2 separate regions of the Homo sapiens genome follow, and region 1 is linked to region 2. Evidence: fine-mapped expression QTL. Tissue or cell type: tibial nerve. Region 2 holds a variant in brackets; the other region holds the start of a gene. All regions are shown on one strand. Distances are from middle to middle.

Evidence for each region. PIP is the estimated chance that this variant, and not a neighbour inherited with it, causes the effect.
Region 1: ATP10D starts here. The variant in region 2 is fine-mapped to the expression of ATP10D in tibial nerve (GTEx, PIP above 0.99).

Annotation. Positions count from the first base shown.
Region 1 is chr4:47,484,322-47,486,977 of GRCh38, forward strand. ATP10D (ATPase phospholipid transporting 10D (putative)) reads left to right here and starts at 954. Exons shown (of 23, transcript NM_020453.4): 1 at 954-1,198. RefSeq lists enhancers at 791-1,085, 1,057-1,126.
Region 2 is chr4:47,583,773-47,586,627 of GRCh38, forward strand. The region is part of intron 21 of ATP10D (ATPase phospholipid transporting 10D (putative)); the gene reads left to right. Among named protein-coding and RNA genes, the nearest start is that of MIR8053, 67 kb to the right of the region's middle. The variant A/ATT (reference allele first, on the strand shown) is at 1,568.

The DNA.
Region 1 (2,656 bases), 100 kb before region 2:
CTTGTTTCTCCTCGTCTGGCAGAAGCACGTTCTCAGTGGGTGCAGAAACTTGTTTGGCTTCTCTTGGTCTGAGAGAATTTTCAAGCCGACCAACCAGCTCCCTGTGTCTGTACTGGTGAGCTCTTTACTAATAGTCAAACATTTGCATGCTCATTTAGTTTTCTTCACTCTTGTTGCACATCTGAGAAACACTTGAGAGAATGGAAGAGAGAGGCACAATATAGGAGAGCTGTGGAGAGTTTGGCCCCACTTTTTATATTTGTTTCAATGGGATAAAACAGGCAGCCAAGATTATTAGGTTTTGTTCTGAGTTATTGGTTCGGCCTTCACTAAATGGCTTTTCCTCTTTCCAAATTAGACATTTTGAGAAACCAGACAGGTTGTTGAAACTTATTTAGAAGTTTTAAAAAAAGTTGTGAATTTTAAGCAAACGGACCTTGGCAGGTGTATGGACAAAGCCACATTATCCTGAGTAAGGGAACGGAAGGGCAAGGTGTGAGGAAAACGACCAAATCAGAATTGTAATATTTTTCCTCATTTCTTTTCTAGTCATAAAAACAGTAACATTACATATTATTTATTTATTTTGTGGTAGGGTCTCACTCTGTCGCCCAGGCTGGAATGCAGTGGCGCGACATTTTTAGATTTGATCTCTTTTACCCTCCAAAAAATAATTGTCCAGTGTTCCACGTTTAGCTAAAACAGTGAATTGTTAGAATTGCAGCAAAACAATGAACCAAACCGTCAACCGCGAGCAACCTGTACTTGGGAGGTGAAAGTCAGAGGTGAGATTGTAAGGGCTCTGGGTCACTGGGGCATCTGCGCTGGGCAGAAGGGCAGCTCGGTCAAACAGCTGGAGCTGGGAGCCGGTCAGTTGCCAGGCCCTGCCGCTGCTACGTCACGGAGGGCGGGGCGGTGGGCGATTGGCGGTGCACTGCAGCTCGGGCTGCTCTGCAGCCTGGCGGAGACGGGAGGAGGAGCGGAGGGAGAAGTAGGTTGCGAGCTCAGCACAGGCTCCGGCGCTGGCTCCCGCAGCTGAGTTTGGGAGATGTCTAAGTGATTTTTTTTTTTTCCCGGAAGGCAAATGGCTGGCGTGGAAGCACAACCCGCTTTCACTCTTCGAATTTGTGCTTAGCTCTTTTCTTGTACCTTGCGACTCGTGACCAACATGCTGTGATGTGTGCCGAGGGAGGAATTGGTAAGAGTGAGACGGCGAATCCCTCTGACTGTCCCAGCCTTCTGCTTCACCGCCCACCCGCTTTTCCTTTCTGTTTCTCTCTCCTGTTTCTCCCCGCTCCACTTCCCTAGTCGTGTTTAGATTTGATGACATGGCTCAAAACTACAGTTCTGGGCTGTTACTGAACTAAAAAAAAAAAACAACAAAAGATAAAATGATTACACCATTTTCAATCATTTGTTAAAGGGGAATTTAAAAATCTATTTTAAATGCTGGATTTTGTAAAAAGGTAAACTGCACACGCGGGCGCACACGGGCACGTACATACACGCATTCTCACACACCTTTGTACACGCGGGCATACACGGGCACGCACACACACGCATTCACACACACACACACTCCTTTGTCATCCCGTTGTGAAATAAGCAGTTTAAAGAAATTTTGGTTATCTGCCTCAAAGGTGATGAAAAGGGAAGGTGTTGAAGATTTAGCCCAGCAGATTGATTCCTTAAGGTTGATTCCCTAAGGTTGATTCCTTAGGAAGAAAAAGGTGTTTGTATTGGAGCTTTCTCGGAAATAGTTTTCAAAGGAGTGCTACAAAGAAGCCCCCATGCTTCCCCCAAAACACTAACTTTAAAGAACCTAGTTGTTATTCGGGGCACCCTTTATTTTACGTTGTAAAACATGTAGTTTTAATTTACCACGTACAGCAGAGAGACATCAGTTGGTTAGGGAATGGATGGTTATTTTGGTGTCTGGGACCCTGTGCCTTTAGAAAGAATATGTTTTAACTGCTCTTATCATGCTAGCTCAGGTTTTTAAAATGTGATCTGAATAAGACCAAAGTTTCTTCTTGCGTTCTTTTCATGCTGGTTCTAAGCAGGGAGAAAAACAAGTCTGTATGGACAGAGCAAACCTCTAACTCAAAATCAACCTTGAGAGATGCATCAACAAGGACAGGGGCTCCTCATCCACCAATATTTACTTGTATCAGCCTTTAAATCATGTAGGTCACATTTCTGTGAAGAATAGCATCATCGAAAACCCTTGCTGACTTGTGAAGAGCAAAAATCATTGCAACGGAGTAGTTTGTTCAGTGCCCGCAGCAAGAACCTCCCACTCCGATCCACCTCAAAAAGTAATAACTGCTTCTTCTGGACTGTTTTCTATTCTCACTACAAATACGTATCATATACCTACATTGAGATAGTTTATTTTTATTAAAATGAGGTCATTTTATACATTTGGAAAAATAACTTAGCAACATTTTAAAGTTTTAGGGAGTTTAAAAATAACATTTAATTTTCATGCTAATTTAACATTCATTAAATTGCATGAAAAAGAGGGAAAATCTAAGCACTCTAAACTAGGATGTGGGGAGTGTTTGACCCTGGCTTAGCAAAACCTGAATACTTTTCATACTTAGTGACTAAATAGAATTGAATAGGGCCGGGCGCAGTGGCTCATGCCTGTAAT
Region 2 (2,855 bases):
TTAAAAAATATAATGAAGAACCATGATAGAACAAAATAAAGAAAAGCAAAAATATCTGAGAAACCAGAGTGACTCTGGAGATGCACAGAGCAGAAACTAATGGTCAGGCTTGTCAGGATGGTCCTCTGGTCTGAACTGGCTCCATTTATTTTCTTTCTGCTCTTGCCCCATTGTGCTCCAAGTCTACTCTCTTGTGATGGAATCCTATTTCCCTAGCTTAAGTCACAGGCTTTGGCTAGGGGAGGAATATTTTGCCGAGACTGCACACAATGCTGGAGTGCAGCATTGTGAAAGCTAGAGTCAAAGATAAACAGAGACTGCTGTTTAAAGGATGCATCATTAGAGAATTGTTTCTTATGCTGGAGGATGCATGGCTAGAGATCCTGGCCCTGCAGGTCTCTTGTTAATAAAAGCCAGCCATTCTGAAAGTATAAAACTCTTTCCCTTCATGCTCTTATTCACCATCTCATTGCCACCTCCCACTTCCCTGTTGGTTTTTACCCAGTATTCTTTGACTTTCACTTCTTTGTATCAATTAACTTAAATGTATAAACTCTATGAAGTCACTATCTCACTTGCCAAAGGCATGTTTTTTTTGTTGTTGTTTTTTGTTTGTTTTTGTTGTTGTTGTTGTTTTTGAGACAGAGTCTTGCTCTGTCACCCAGGCTGGAGTGCAGTGGCACTATCTCTGCTCACTGCAAGCTCCGCCTCCCAGGTTCATGCCATTCTTCTGCCTCAGCCTCCCGAGTAGCTGGGACTACAGGCGCCCACCACCACGCCCCGCTAATTTTGTTTTTGTATTTTTAGTAGAGACAGGGTTTCACCATCTTAGCCAGGATGGTCTCGATCTCCTGGTCTCGTGATCCACCCACCTCAGCCTCCCAAAGTGCTGGGATTACAGGCGTGAGCCACTGTGCCTGGCCAAAGCATGTTTTAAGAGATAAAAAATTGGAGCAAAATGGCTCAAATAGAAGGAAAGACATTTGAGAAAGAAAAAAAAGGAATTATTGTTTTAGCAGCATGAAGATCTTAATCCAGGAGTTAGCTAACATTTTTCTAGTTGTTTGTACATTTTATTTAAAAATAAGCAGTCTGTGTGACTCTTGTGAAGGTATCTGCCATGGGGAAATACTTTGCAAGATTAGGAGAGAAAAGAAGAAAATCTAATCTTATTTGAAAATTATAGCCCTAGAAAATAAAAGAGATTAATAAAAGCAGTGTTTCCCTAAAAAGCATGATATGTGCCACCAATAGTACACACCATGATTTTAGGTAGTACTGTATACTGCACTAAATAACACTAAATACTACATAATGTGAAGGTAATTCTGTTTTCATACTTCCGATTATATCAAAGAGGTATCTCATTTGATGCTATTATGTTTTATCACAGTAATTCTTGCTAATTTCTCTTTATAACAAAGATTAATCAAACCCTAGACTCAGCTCTTTTATAACAGAGAATATTAATATTATGAAGTTGGTGCCAAAAAAAAAACGCAATTATTTTTGCACCAACCTCATACATTTAAAGTAGGCATATACTTTTCTTCCTTTTTGAATTTAA[A/ATT]TCTTTTTTTATTTCTAAAATTTTTGTGGGTACATAGTAGGTGTATATATTTATTATGTACATGAGATGTTTTGATACAGGGTTGCAATGTGAAATAAGCACATCATGGAGAATGGGGTATCCATCCCTTCAAGCATTTATCCTTTGAGTTACAAACAATCCAAATAGATCCTTTAAGTTATTTTAAAATATATAATTATTATTGACTATAGTCATCCCATTATGCTATCAAATAGTAGGTCTTAGTCATTCTTTCTATTTTTCTTTTGTACCCATTAACCATCCCCACCTCCCCTGATACCTCCACTACCCTTCCCAGGCTCTGATAACCATCCTTCTACTTTCTATGTCCATGAGTTCAATTGATTTGATTTTTAGATCCCACAAATAAGTGAGAACATGCAGTATTTGTCTTTCTGTGCCTGCCTTATTTCATTTAACATAATGACCTCTAGTTCCATCCATGTTGTTGTAAGTGATAGAATCTCATTCTTTTTTTGTGGCCAAATAGTACTCCATCGTGTAGATATACCACAGTTTTTTATCCATTCATCTGTTGATGAACACTTAGGTGGCTTCCAAACCTTGGCTATTGTAAACAGTGCTGCAGCAAGCATAGGAGTGCAGATATCTCTTTGATATACTGATTTCCTTTCTTTTGGGTGTACAACCAGCAGTGGGATTGCTGGATCATACAGTAGCTTAATTTTTAGTTTTTTGAGGAACCTCCAAACTGTTCTCCATAGTGGCTGTACTAACTTACATTCCCACTAACAATGTACAAGGGTTCCCTTTTATCCACATCCTAACCAATGTTTGGCATTGCCTGTCTTTTGGATACAAGCCATTTTAACTGGGGTGAGATTGAGATGATATCTCATTGTACTTTTCTTTCTAGATAAAGTTACTTAATTAGTGAACCGATGTTAAGAAAAATAATATTGCAAGATATACATGAATATGAAAGTAGCTAGGCTGTGGTATGACACGCAAACATTTATTTCTTGCTCATATAAAGTTGGCTGATATTCCAGACAGCTCTAGAAGCAACCATCCTCTCAGAGAACTTCTTGGTCAGTATGGAAGGAAAGGAGACAGCATGGAAAATTGCAGACAAGCTCTTACATACTTCTAACCGGAAAGTTTTACATACCCCTTGTACTCACATTTTATTAGTCAAAGCAAGACATATGGCCATGCTTAATTTCAAGGGAGTGTGGAAATGTGATCCACCTGAATGCTTACTCAGGGAGGAGAATGACAGTATTCGTGATCAACAGTACTGTCT